2 linked regions of the Homo sapiens genome follow. The protein of the gene in region 1 interacts with the protein of each later gene in a pairwise test. Each region holds a gene or a part of one and is shown in the gene's direction. Other genes may lie near its edges.

Region 1 (7,371 bases):
TAGCTTGCAGGCCCCATTTTGACTCTTTCCTGGTTTGTCTCCACTCAAAATATTTGTGAATGAGTGAAAGGGTGGATGGACGGATGGGTGGATGGGTGGGTGGATGGATGGACGGATGGGTGGATGGGTGGGTGGACACACAGGTGGATTGAGACTTCCAAGGGTGGTCCAGGAAGAGAGGACTAGACCTGCCCCCTGTCACCACAGGCTCCACTGAGAAGTCACATGGGCATGGTGAGACGGGACACAAGGCTCGTCTCTGAGTGATGTCATAATCTGTGTGCACAGGGCTGGGGCTGTCACCCAGCAGCTACCTTGGAGAGCGCCCATAGGCCCAGGAATGCATGGCCATTTGGATTTTACGAGATGAGATCTTTTTTCTGCCCTTGAATGGTTGTACCTGGCCAGTGGCTGGACAGGTGCTCATCACCATGAATGCCTTCCTGGGGCTAAAGCAGGCCATGCTGTCACCTTCAGAACCACATGGGAACAGCAGGTTTGCATATGTCGTTTGCATAACATATTTTGAATCCGTTATTTCACTTAATCTTCACAAGAACCATGTGAAGTTGGTGAGATTTTTCACTCCAGTTCAAGAAAAGGAAATTTGGCTCCCAAGGGGTGGACTTATTTGTCCCAAGCCAAACAGCTGTTAGTAGGGAAGTGGGCACTCGGACCCACATGGCCGAGCTCATCACCTGGTTCAGTCTCCTCCACTCCCCACTTTAGTCAGGGGGCCTTCTCCTAATGGGCACAGCCCACCAGCCTTTTGGCACATTCCACCCAAGGACCCCGTATTCTGTGGTTAACCTGGGTTCTGGGGGCCCCATAGGAGAGTTACCAAGGGAACAAGGAGGAATGGTGGGCCCTTCTGTTCCACCCATTGATTCCCCAGAAGAAAGGTGCATTTGCATGTAGTGCCTATGGGCAGGGAACTTTCCCACCCTGAGGGAGTGGGGTCACACCACACACACGCACACTCACAAACACACTCACACATAGTCACACACACACTCACACACAGTCACACACATTCACACATAGTCACACACACATTCACACAGTCTCACACACACATAGTCACACAGTCACACTCACATAGTCACACACTCATAGTCACACACACACACAGTCACACACTCACAGTCACACACTCACACATAGTCACACAGTCACACACACTCACATAGTCACACACACTCACATAGTCACACACACACAGTCACACACTCACACATAGTCTCACACACACACAGTCACACTCACACATAGTCACACACTCATAGTCACACACACCCACACATAGTCACACACACTCACACAGTCACACACACACTCACACATAGTCACACAGTCACACACACTCACATAGTCACACACACTCACAGTCACACACACACTCACACATAGTCACACACACTCACACACAGTCACACACACACTCACACATAGTCACACACACACACACATAGTCACACACGTTCACACACACACAATAGTAAAGCCGTGACTCTTCCTGCAGGTTGGCCTTGGACTTTCTGGAATGGGCGTCAGCTCAGGAGTATGGCAGGAGGCCTGTGAGGGGCGGGGGGCCTCTGTGACTCAGGGCTGGCTCCGTGCTGGGGGGACAGATGGTGCTGTCACTGCCCACCTCGTTGGGGAAGGTGGGAGCAGCCTGGTGAGAGGACAGCATTGACCCGACTCGGGTCCACATTCCTGGTGCTGAACCACAAACCCTCAGGAAGCTCGAGACAAAGCAAGTCCCCTTCCTTGGAGAAGGAGAGGGTGGGCTAGAGGTTTCGAGTGCCCACCCAGCTCTGACGGGCCTTGAAAGGTCCGAGTCACTGCCTGTTCTGTGTCCCAGTCCCTGTCTGGAATGGCCACAGGACCCTTGTTTCTTGGGCAAGAAGGATGCATCATGGTACGCAGGGCAACTGGCCTAGTTCGTAAAGCACGCTCACCTTGAAGGAATAGAATTTGTTTTTTCTTTAGCCACCTGAGTAAATCATTTTAAAAGAATTAAAGTAAGATACATTTAACATTCCACCAACATTTATTAACACCAAACTAGACCAAAGCCTAACTGAGCCTTTAATTATTCAGAAGCTTAGATGGGGGAGGCGGCACTTGGAGGGGCCTCTGGGCTGTGGGGGCCGGCGAGAGTCAGGAGGGGAAAACAGAGCCCTGAGCCCAGGGAGGAGGCATTTGCGGGGAGAGCAGAGAGTTGGGAAATGGATTCCAGAATGCTCCATGAGCCCCTGGGACTGCAGGCCCTGGAATGTTCCTTCCTGCCTGTGCGTGCCACAGCATTACTGCTTAAAAATTTAAAGCCCCATTTGATACCATAGCGGGCACTCTATTTTCAGAGGGCATGAGCCATTTGCTATGAAAGAGGGCCCTTGCTCCTTAATGCACTGTGCATTTTAGCAGGAGGCAGCGCTGCTCCGTCCTCAGCTTCCCCCGCACACCCTGGCCTGTGTGCTATTTTCTTTCTTTCCTCTTTCTCTTTTCTTCTCTTGCTTTCTCTTCATGGGCAGAAGCAGGACAGGGTGCTCCAGAAACCTCAGCCCATGTGCCCTGTTGATAGGGCTGGGTCACAGCTGAGCATATTCCAGCCAGGTCGGTATTTCTGTGCCCTGGCTTCACCTTTAACCCACCTGGTGAGGCTGCAAGGTACTGAGTCCCAGGCCCCACCTCCAGAGTCTCTGATTTCTGTTGCCCTGGGGTCCCTGTGGGGAACCCAGGTATGTACAGCCCTGGAAGCCTCACCAGGTAGTTCCATGCAGCTAGGGTCGAGCACTGTAGGGACACAGATAGTGGCAGGCGTGTGGCACGGGCTCCGTTCTCTTTGAAGAAGCACTTGGCTCTGGGTTTGAGAGTGTAGGCTTTGGAGCCAGTCCAGCTTGAACTGGCAGGCCTCCTGGCTGGGTGACAGTAAGCAAGTTGCTTAACTTCTCTGAGCCTTGGTCTCCCTATGTGTAAAATGGGACTCAAAATAGTACTTATTCATTTCCCGGGGTTTTGTAAAGATCAAATGAGATAAATAACACAGCAGACTCAGTGCAGTGCCTGGAACATGGGAAAGGATGGATAATTATTAGCTGTTAGTTATCTTGAGGCCAGGTGTGTCTTTGTGTGTTGCTGGCCCCCCTCCCGCTTCTTAATGCCTGCTGCCCCGTTGGGTAGGGTGTGGGATAGACTGTCATCCCGTAGCTCTGTGACCCTGAGCCTGCCAGTTGGCTCCTCAGAGACACATCCTGCAGGCAAGAAAATGAAGGTGCTCAGAGGAAGGGCTGTGCTCAGAGGAATGCCTTCCCTAGGGTTGGGAGATGGGTGCGTGATTGCAGTCCTAGACTGACTGTGAGCTGGAGGCAGACCTGTGCCTGTGCCTTGTCCATGGCCAGAAAGGAAAGTGCATTCAGGGTTAGGAGAACTATAGGAGAGTAATTGTTTGGTTTTAAGGCAGCTGAATAGCTTGGTATCTTTAAAATTTGTTTTTTAAATCTAAAGTCTAATCTTTGAAATCTTTTAAAAGCATTCCTTCTCTGGGGAGCAAAAAGCCTACAGCACCGTGTGTGGTCTCCTGACTGAGGCCAGCATGAGCTCAGCAGCTTCTCCTCGGCACTTGTGGGCCTTCGCTCCTGGGGATTTTGCCAGGAGGGGAATGGAGAGAGGGGTCTGGACTGGCGCCGCCATTTGTATTGTTGCTTCCTCCGGCCATGTGGCTGCAGGAGCTACTCCCGTGCACTAGATTTACTGGACTTTGTGCAGGGGTTACAGATGTGGATGAGACCCAGTGTCACTCCCCCCATGAGCATCCTGTCCGGAAAGCTGTGGGGGGACAGCTGTGTGGCTCACTCCTAGGCAGACATTGTGCCAACAAAGTGACGTTGTTGTTTCCAAATAGTTTGCAGCTAGTTTTAACTCAGTCCATCAGAGAAGCCTCCCTGGAGGAGGTGGCATTTGGGCTGGGCCTTGAAGGACGAATATAGACAAACTTTACATCTTTTCTTGAAAAAGGTGCTGTAGTTATTCAAAGTGACAGAGGAAGACAACAAGAGAATCAGGCAGGTGGTATTAGAGGTATGCTTCCGTTTCTCGGGGAAGAGAAGGGGTGAGAGGGAGCTGAAGCCACCCCGTCGTGTACTTTACAAACTTAAAATTTCAAGATGAGTTTGTGTGTGTTACTTTCTGATAACAAGATATGAAATTCCTTGCATTTTGGGGTGCTGAGATTGGCAATAGTGGTTTTCCTTCTACTGAGGAGGCTTGGTTTGCTCTCTTGTATTTTACTTTATTTGGCGGGGTGGAGGATGTATAGTAAGAAGTAGAAACCACACTGTCCTCTTTTCACACTGACCGGCAAAGCTAAGCCTCATCCCCAAATGATTTTGTTCCTAGAAGGGAGAGTATTTTCAAATTCAGCAGAAAAGTCAGGAGTGAAGATTTGCTGTCATGGAGGTAACTTCCTCTCTAGTAATTGGATTAGATTCTGAGAAAATGACCCAAACACCACTGCAGCAATCCTCAGCTTCCTCCCGCCTCCCCGCAGCCCCGAATGCATTTGCACAGAAGCACACACCAGTTTCCTGCAAATAAAATGCACTGGCAGGTGGCTGCACTAAAACTGTTTTTCTTTTAAGCTCCCTGGAATCCTGTTGAATATTAAAGTTCCATCTTGAGGCTAGACTCAATTCAGATCTGCCTGTAAAGATGTAAAACAGCGATTCTTCATTTGCTGGGTGATTGATTCCTGACTCTATGCTCAGAATGTACATGTTTGCAGAGCAGTCATCTACCTATGATACTGTGGGGTGTGATGGATGGCATAGCAGATAGGGAAAAAAGCTTGATGCAGAGTCAGGGAGAGCAGCTCCCTTGTTCCTTCACTCTGCACTTAAGTAATCAACCTTATCAGCAAGACAGTCAATGAGATTTAGGAAGAAGGAGAATTTATACCTGGGGGCGGGGCAGCCTAAGAGTGCCATTCCTCTCTGCTGGTGTTTATGCTTGCCTAACTAATGTTGTCCTGCAACAGAAAGACTAGGAACAATCCCCACCCACCACTACCAAAAAAAAAAAAAAAAGAGAGAGAGAGAGATCAAGAGAAATCACCCAGCCTGTGCCTGGAGCTACAGCGAATAACGGAACTTGAGTCTCCTACACCCCTGATTTGCATCCCTGATGATAAGAACAGGTTGGCAAAGAAAATGTTTACCCAACCAATTTGCTGTGTTTGGGGAGTTATCAGTCCTCACAGTCCGCGATGCTGGCGATTACCTTGTAAATAATGCATGGGCCACTTCTGGTTCCCAGTGTGCTGGCTGTGTGGGAAAGGGCAATGTCTGTACGAGCAGGCAGAGAAGATTGCCTGGCACCTACTGCGGCTGTTTTGCTGAACCTGTTGCCCTTTTGACAGGTGCAGAACATGTCTCAATCCATAGAGGTCTTGGACAGGCGGACCCAGAGAGACTTGCAGTACGTGGAGAAGATGGAGAACCAAATGAAAGGACTGGAGTCCAAGTTCAAACAGGTGGAGGAGAGTCATAAGCAACACCTGGCCAGGCAGTTTAAGGTATGCATGTTCCTCCCCCTCTCCCTCCCCTTATCCTCCTCCTCCTCCTCTTCCTCCTCCTTCCCCTCCCTCCTCTCCTCCTTCTCTTCTTCCTCCTCCTCTTCTCCTCCTCTTGCTCCTCCTCCCTTCATCCTCCTCTTCCTCCTCCCTCTCCTTCTTCTCCTCCTCTTCCTCCTCCTCCCCCTCTTCATCCTCCTCTTCCTCCTCCCTCTCCTTCTTCTCCTCCTCTTCCTCCTCCCTCTCCTTCTTCTCCTCCTCTTCCCCCTCATCCTCTTCATCCTCCTTTTCCTCCTCCCTCTCCTTCTTCTCCTCCTCTTCCTCCTCCCTCTCCTTCTTCTCCTCCTCTGAGGCTGGGTGTGCTTTCCCTTCATGCTCTCCCTTTCCCTACAGAAATGGTCATTTGGGGCAGGGAGAAGCATAGCAAAGGTTGTTCTGTGCCTTGAAAGGACTGTTGCCCTTGGCAGTAGGGAGGCCACCACTGGCCCTGGCTTGGCAGAAGCCACCTTGACAGGGGCGGCCTGAGTGGTGGCAGCAGCATACACTCGCCCCCAAGCCCCCGTCAGTGTGGTTTGGAAGCCAGGGGTCTGAGATCCTGCGCTGCCCGAGCCAAGTCGAATATTAGCTGGGAAGGGACATCGTTATTGGCCCTTGTCATTCTGCAGCTGCTGCAGGTAAATCACATTAGCCAAAGATTAGCTGAATTGATGAGGGCCATTCTGGAGCAGGAATCTCTCAGGGCAGTTTTCACATCTGACCTAATCTAGCCATGACAAAGCATACCATAGACTTGCAGGGAAAAAAGAGAGAGATGCCAGCCTCCTTTCCACCTCGTGGGAAGTGTTCTGCTTCTCCGGGTAACTCTGGACATTAAAACTGGTGTTTGTTTGACCTAAAATCATAGATACAGATGTGCAGCCAGGTAGAGAGATGCCCACAGTTGACTCCATCTCAGTGCGATTCGACTGAAACGTTATATGCCGCCTTAATGAAGGTATACATGCATTTTAATTAGAAATCCAGCCCAGATGTAAATGAACAGGTCAAATTACACAGCCTCGCCCGACTAGAAACTGCTGGTGTACTCTGTCTCTGTCTTCCCGTCCTTTTTATGCTAATGTTTTTCTTCGATGTGCTCCCTGCATGAGGCAAGAACTAATTCTCTTTTAAAAATGATACATTAAATAGATGAAATGGCAAGCTAATGAAATTATAAATCTATATTATAAATAAAATAATAGCAGGCCCAATCCTGTTGAGGTGAAATGAGCCGATTGTGCTCATCAGAGGCAGTTGGACATTTTTGTCCTCGCATCTGGCTGGTCATCATGAATTACTCTGGAGGGAGAGATGTTGACCTGTCTAACCAAAAAAGCATTTATGTCTCTGAGCCAGCACTCCCTTCTCTGCGGCCAGCAGACTCCTCTAACGAGGGGGGTGTCTTCAGCAACTGGGAGGTAGCTCATCTTGGCAAACGTTGTTGACACAGGCATCTCTCCGAGTTTCCAATTTTGGGGTGCTGTGGCTCTGGGGGAAGAAAAGCAAGCGCTTGCCTATACTGTGCTAAACCGCATTAAAAAAATTCCAACAGAAATTGTGACGAGGGAATCTCAATAACTCTTAAAGCAGTTTGTTTTGACTAACTCGAGCATTACAGTGGGATTTTTCTAACTGACCATGCAAATATGTGTTTCCTGATGGCTGTCTGTTTCAGGCAGGCTAGTGAGCTAGTTCTTCAACGGTATTTCATTTTCTTACTTGCAGGGCTAACTTAAAAGAGTTTTTTCAATGCTGCAGTG
Region 2 (7,371 bases), on another chromosome or scaffold:
TATTTTAGCCATTCTGATTGTTGTGTGGTGATGGCTCATTGTGGTTTGAATTCGCATTTCCCTAATGCCTAATGATTTCAAACATATTTTCATGTGTGTGTTGGCCATCCTTATATCTTCTTCAGTGAAATGTGTCTTTTGCCCATTTTCTAATTGAATTATTTGCTTTCTTGCTGTTGTGTTTTAAGAGTTCTTTGCATATTCTAGCTATAAGTCCTTTATTGGATGTGTGATTTGCAGTTGTTTTTGCTCATTCTGTGACTTACCTTTGCGGCTTCTTCCCAGGGTCTTTCGCAGAGCAAACATTTGAAATTTTTGTCATGCTTTTGGTGTCAAGTCTTCGAACTCTTTGCCTAGTCCTAGATCCCAAAGACTTTTTCCTCCTGTGTTTTTTATCTTAAAGTTTTATAGATTATATTTAAATCCATAGTCCATTTCGAGTTAATTTTTGTTTAAGATATGAGATTAGGTCAACGTTTTGTTTGTTTTTTGGCTTATGGATGTCCACTTAACCCAGTGCCAAATGGTGCAAAGCTCTCTCTGCCACTAAATTGCTTTTGTACCTTTGTCAAAGATTGCTTGGGCATATGGACATATTCGTATGGATCTACTTTTGGATTCTGTGTTCTGTTCATTTGATCTATGTCCCTCTGTCAATACTGCACTGTCTTGATTACTGTAATTGTATAAAAAGACTTGAAGCCTACGCGGTGGCTCACACCTGTAATCCCAGCACTTTGGGAGGCCGAGATGGGAGGATCACCTTAGCTCAGGAGTTTGACACCAACCTGGCCAACATGGTGAAATCCCATGTCTACTAAAACAAAAATTAGCTGGGCATGCTGGTGTGCGCCTGTGATCCCAGCTACTTGGGAGGCCGAGGCAGGAGAATCGCTTGAATCTGGGAGGCAGAGGTTGCAATGAGCCAAGATCACACAACTGCACTCCAGCCTGGGCGACAGAGTGAGACTCCGTTTCAAAAAAAAGCCTTGAAATTGGGTAGACTGGTTATTTCTGTCTTTATTCTTTTTCTGAAAATGTTTTAGCTATTGTAGTTCCTTTGCCTTTCTGTATACATTTTAGGATAATCTTGTCTATACAAAAACATTGGCTGCAAGTTTGGTAGGATTTGCATTAAACATGCGTATCGGTTTGGGGAAAATTCATGTCTTTACTGTGTCCTGTCTTCCATTCCATGGACACAGTGTGTCTTCTCATTTATTTAGATTTCCTTTGATTTCTTTCATCTGCATTGTTTCGTTTTCCATTTCCAAGTCCTATACATGTTTTGTTAGATTTACAACTAAGGATAGTCTTCTATTGAACAATTGTCAATGGCATTGTATTTTTAATTGCAGTGTCCATGTTTTCATTGCTCATACATAGAAATATAGTTGATTTTCATATGCTCATCTTGTATACTACAACCTTGCTGAACTCACTTATTAGTTGTATGAGTTTTACGTTTTACTTAAAGTCCCAATTATTTAACACTTTCTATGTGCCAGGCATTATGCTAAAGCTTTCTTGTACTTGTCCAAGCCAGTAAATGGTGGAACTAGGATCTTCATACATAAATCATTTATCCACTTCATTAGTTCATTTCACAAATTCTTAGGCAGAGCTTATGTGAATCACAGTGAATCTAGGCACAAGGTCCTGCCCTCCTGAGCCCACAGTCTGAAACTAGCAGAAGTAATGCAAGTGAATATGTAGCTATGATACGTTCAAATTAAATAAGTTGATTTGTTACAACTGAGTGCATTTACTAGCTCATTCTGTAAGTGGGTGAGGCAAGGAAGGGCCCCTTACCGGTCTGGAGTGGGTGGGGGGGTGTCCAGGGAGGGCTTCCTAAAGAAACAGTGTTGCAGGGCATGATGGCTTACATCTGTAATCCCAGCGCTTTGGGAGGGCAAGGCAGGAGGATCACTTGAGCCCAGGAGTTTGAGAGTAGCCTGGGCAACATAGTGAGACCCTGGCTGTAAAGAAAGAGAGAGAGAAGAAAGAAAGGGAAGAAGATAACCATCTGATCTTTGACAAACCTGACAAAAACAAGCAATGGGGAAATGTTTCCCTATTTAATAAATGGTGCTGGGAAAACTGGCTAGCCATATGTAGAAAGCTGAAATTGGATCCCTTCCTTACACCTTATACAAAAATCAATTCAAAATGGATTAAAGACTACATGTTAGACCTAAAACCATAAAAACCCTAGAAGAAAACCTAGGCAATACCATTCAGGACATAGACATGGGCAAGGACTTCATGTCTAAAACACCAAAAGCAATGGCAACAAAAGCCAAAATTGACAAATGGGATCTAATTAAACTAAAGAGCTTCTGCACAGCAAAAGAAACTACCATCAGGGTGAACAGGCAACCTACAAAATTAGAGAAAATTTTCGCAACCTTCTCATCTGACAAAGGGCTAATATCCAGAATCTACAATGAACTCAAACAAATTTACAAAAAAAAAACAACCCCATCAAAAAGTGGGCAAAGGATATGAACACACACTTCTCAAAAGAAGACATTTACGCAGCCAAAAAACACATGAAAAAATGCTTATCATCACTGGCCATCAGAGATATGCAAATCAAAACCACAATGAGATACCATCTCACACCAGTTAGAATGGCGATCATTAAAAAATCAGGAAACAACAGGTGCTGGAGAGGATGTGGAGAAATAGGAACACTTTTACACTGTTGGTGGGACTGTAAACTAGTTCAACCATTGGGGAAGTCAGTGTGGCGATTCCTCAGGGATCTAGAACTAGAAATACCATTTGACCCAGCCATCCCATTACTGGGTATATACCCAAAGGATTATAAATCATGCTGCTATAAAGATACATGCACACGTATGTTTATTGCGGCACTATTCACAATAGCAAAGACTTGGAACCAACCCAAATGTCCAACAACGATAGACTGGATTAAGAAAATGTGGCATATATACACCATGGAATACTATGCAGCCATTAAAAATGATGAGTTCATGTCCTTTGTAGGGACATGGATGAAACTAGAAACCATCATTCTCAGCAAACTGTCGCAAGGACAAAAAACCAAACACTGCATGTTCTCACTCATAGGTGGGAATTGAACAATGAGAACACATGGACACAGGAAGGGGAACATCACAATCCGGGGCCTGTTGTGGGGTGGGGGGAGGGGGGAGGGATAGCATTAGGAGATATACCTAATGTTAAATGACGAGTTAATGGGTGCAGCACACCAACATGGCACATGTATACATATGTAACAAACCTGCACATTGTGTACATGTACCCTAAAACTTAAAGTATAATAATAATAAAAAAATTAAAAAAAAAAAGGAAAGAAGGAGAAAGAACTGATGTTAATTTTCCCAAGCTTATTGATTCTTATCAACTCACATCAGTTTCTGACATTCAGAGATGTCTGTGATCAAAGCTCATATGAAGAGAATTCTAAATGTTGCATGGCAAAGAACCCAAGAACTCCTGGCCCAAACCGCATGCAGCTCCCCACTCGTCTCTGCGTCCTCCTCACCTCCTTCACCTGCTGCTGTCTCAACTTGACCCCTTCCATCTGGCCCCTGACCCCTGGACTCTGTGGCCTCCCTGAGCGGCCAGCACAGTCACGTCTAAGTCGACCTGACCATCTGCCTGCTGGGTGCTGCTGGCTGCTGCTGGCTGCTGCTGGCGCTGGCTGCCCTGCACATTCTCCATGCCCTCCTTTCCATGGCACCAGTTTCTGCCTCTCCTTTGGGTTTCTTTCCCCTTGCCCCCTGGCAAGCTGGGTTTTGAAGTCATTTGGGATGGAAGGTGGGCCATTTGAAGAGCTGTAGGGTCAGGCCCTCATTCTGCCAGTCCATTTGGGAAAAATCTTCCATGTCACTAAGCTCTTGTAACAATAGCTACAAAAGTTGCTTGTTAGTTGGGAACTGAAATCTGCCTGTATAGAGATTTGCCCTCAGATGGATTTCCAGGTAAAGACAGACCCCCATCCCCATTGAGCAGGGAAGGAGCGGCCCCTCCCTGGCAGTGCTGTGTCCTCTGATGGCGTGCAGCACTTCAGAGTTACTCTGTTAGGCAGCATGGCTCTCCCTTTGCATGGGAGTGAGTGTCCCACAACCAGCACTGTCTCTGCCTGCGCCTTTCCTCCCAGCCCCATGGCCGTGTGCTGAGTGCACCGGCCCTGTTCTGCCTTTGGACTGAGGAGGCGTGTTCCTCTTCCTATGTCTCCCTGACTGTAGGAGCGATCTCTCTTTGAGTCGGCATGGAAGAAGGAGAAGGACATCGTTTCCAAGGAGATAGAGAAGCTCCGCACGTCCATCCAGACCCTGTGCAAGAGCGCACTTCCCCTGGGGAAGATCATGGACTACATCCAGGAAGACGTGGATGCCATGCAGAATGAGCTGCAGATGTGGCACAGCGAGAACAGGCAGCACGCCGAGGCCCTGCAGCAGGAGCAGAGGTGGGGGGTAGTAATGGGGAGGGGGCCCTGCAGCAGGAGCAGAGGTGGGGGGTAGTAATGGGGAGGGGGCCCTGCAGCAGGAGCAGAGGTGGGGGGTAGTAATGGGGAGGGGGCCCTGCAGCAGGAGCAGAGGTGAGGGGTAGTAATGGGGAGGGGGCCCTGCAGCAGGAGCAGAGGTGAGGGGTAGTAATGGGGAGGGGGCCCTGCAGCAGGAGCAGAGGTGGGGTGTAGTAATGGGGAGGGGGCCCTGCAGCAGGAGCTGAGGTGGGGTGTAGTAATGGGGAGGGGGCCCTGCAGCAGGAGCAGAGGTGAGGGGAAGTAATGGGGAGGGGGCCCTGCAGCAGGAGCAGAGGTGAGGGGAAGTAATGGGGAGGGGGGCCTGCAGCAGGAGCAGAGGTGAGGGGAAGTAATGGGGAGGGGGCCCTGCAGCAGGAGCAGAGGTGAGGGGAAGATAATGGGGAGGGGCCCTGCAGCAGGAGAGAGGTGGGGGGGAGCAGGGGGATAATGGGAGGAGGCCTGCAGCAGGAGCAGAGGTTAAGGGTAGCAGAGGCAGGGAGTAATGGGGAGGGGGCCCTGCAGCAGGAGCACAGGTAGGGGATAGCGGAGTGGGGGGAGTAATGGGGGAGGAGGCCCTGCAGCAGGAACAGGTTGGGGTGGGGCAGGAGGGTAATGGGGAGGGGGCCCTGCAGCAGGAGCAGAGGTAGGGGTGTAGCGGAGTGGGGCAGTAATGGGGAAGAGGCCCTGCGGCAGGAACATAGGTGGGGGGTAGTGGAGGGGGGATCCCCAAAGTCAATGGGGACTTTGCTGCATACCTCCTTGTCCCAGAGGTTGTTCTGTATGTAATTTAAGGACTTCAAGATTATCATTGAAGAAATATTAACTGCTGCTTTTATAAATCTCATGTTTGACTTCACTTTTGGTTGTAGCAGGGGTTGTGAAAATAAGAAATAAATATTATCCTTTTCTTTGGATGAAACGAATAATTTACTTCTGTTGTCTTTCAATGTCTTAATTAAGAAGCCAACACACAATGAGATGAGAGAGTGATGAGCCGCTGGTTTTGTTCTCCCTCAGGATCACAGACTGTGCCGTGGAGCCCTTAAAGGCTGAGCTCGCGGAGCTGGAGCAGCTGATCAAAGACCAGCAAGACAAGATCTGTGCTGTGAAGGCCAACATCCTCAAGAATGAAGAAAAAATCCAGAAAATGGTATATAGTATCAATTTGACTTCGAGAAGGTGAACACTCAAAAGTTTCAGAGATGAAAAGTCACCTCAGTTTAAAAGCAAAAAGGAAGATAGAAAATCATTACTCTTTTAAGTTCCAGTTTGCTAAGAAAATGAACAGTTTACAATGTTATTATCCAGCTAATTTTCAGAGCTTTAAAACTGTAAGCATGTTAAGTGTATTAAAAAAACCATGTTTTCTTACCTCCTTCCAGATGGAATACTGGCTAGTTATAAATAGCGCTTCCAAACACCTCTGTGAAAAGTTTTTTTGAAAGCCTGTTCTTTGTGTTTCTGCTGTAACCTGTTTAGTTCTGTACCAGAACTCTCTAGCAGGTAAGTGGTGTGGGCATACCAAGGGAACAGTAGTCCTTTATTTTGGTTTAGTGGAAAGACTTTCAGAGGTCAGTGCCGAATGAAGGATGACTGTGTACTTTTTGATAGGCACTTGATAAGTAGAATGAGGCCTGAAAATGAATACATTATATTTTTAGTTAATTTCCAATGGAAAGGGCTAACCTCAGCCTGTCTCCATATCAGGTACCTATCAACTGGATTGTTTTCATTTTTGTTTTTTGACCTCTTTGTAATTGCATGTACTTCTCTATGTAATTTTCCTCTTGATCTCTACTATCGTTTGCTTGTGTTTCTAGTCCTTAAAGTTCATAAATTTAAAAAGGAGATTTCAGGATGGCCTTTATGGACGTTGTCTGGACATACATCCTCACTTTCTTCCGCAGTTTACCCTGGTTTTCCTCAGACAGAGGCTAGCGCAGCCCCCCGGAGTCCTTGTTCTCCTTAAGAGGGTCTCGCTCTGCAAAGCATTGGCGCCATGGCTTTTCCTTTGCATGGGTGTGCATACCGAGAGACAGGCAGCTTAGGAAAAACAACATAAGGAAGACTTAAAAGGATGCACTGATTTACGACGTTTTTTGATGTTAGCCATTTTTTTGGAAATTGTTTTTTAAAGCAAAAGTTTTTTAAAAACATGGTTTATAGTTTTTCACTTACATATACTATTGTAAATACTTAGCAGAGTCTTAAGTTACTGTATAAAACATTTCATTGTGTTTGAAGACATACTTATGGGTCTTGAGGTCTGGGTCCTAATACTTTTAAATAGTGTATTTATTATGTAAACTGAGGAGTGCCATTTAAAGTGTGAGGATTGCCTGAAAAGGTTTTGTTTCTTTCTTTTTTTTTTTTTTTTGAGATGGAGTCTTACTCTGTCGCCCAGGCTGGAGTGCAGTGGCGCAATCTCGGCTCACTGCAACCACCGCCTCCCGAGTTCAAGTGATTCTCCTGCCTCAGCCTCCTGAGTAACTGGGACTACAGGCGCACGCCACCATGCCCAGCTAATTTTTGTATTTTCAGTAGAGATGGGGTTTCACCGTGTTGACCAGGATGGTCTCCACCTCCTGACCTCGTGATCCGCCTGCCTCGGCCTCCCAAAGTGCTGGGATTACAGGCATGAGCCACTGCACCCGGCCAGGTTTTGTTTCTTTAAGGATTAGCACAAATGGCACCGTTGGGTTTTTCTTCATACAATTTCCAAAATAAATTCTGTACTCAGGTTGTTATATGATTTTCTGAGCTGAATAAGTTCAGGAGCAGATTATTAAGATCTGCCATTCTGAAACGCTGGTCTTTTTCTCCTTCCTATAGTGCACCATAAAATTCTGTTT

Evidence for each region.
Region 2: the proteins of OLFM1 (region 1) and TRAF3IP1 interact in a two-hybrid assay, tested with the Homo sapiens proteins (2 studies listed by BioGRID and IntAct).

Annotation. Positions count from the first base shown.
Region 1 is NC_000009.12:135,090,445-135,097,815, forward strand, and holds part of OLFM1 (noelin isoform 4 precursor), read left to right. Parts: intron 1-5,419; coding exon 5,420-5,575; intron 5,576-7,336; coding exon of another isoform or gene 7,337-7,342; exon of another isoform or gene 7,343-7,371. UniProt on the Homo sapiens protein: Contributes to the regulation of axonal growth in the embryonic and adult central nervous system by inhibiting interactions between RTN4R and LINGO1. Inhibits RTN4R-mediated axon growth cone collapse.
Region 2 is NC_000002.12:238,393,218-238,400,588, forward strand, and holds part of TRAF3IP1 (TRAF3-interacting protein 1), read left to right. Parts: intron 1-4,241; coding exon 4,242-4,462; intron 4,463-5,536; coding exon 5,537-5,702; 3' UTR 5,703-7,371.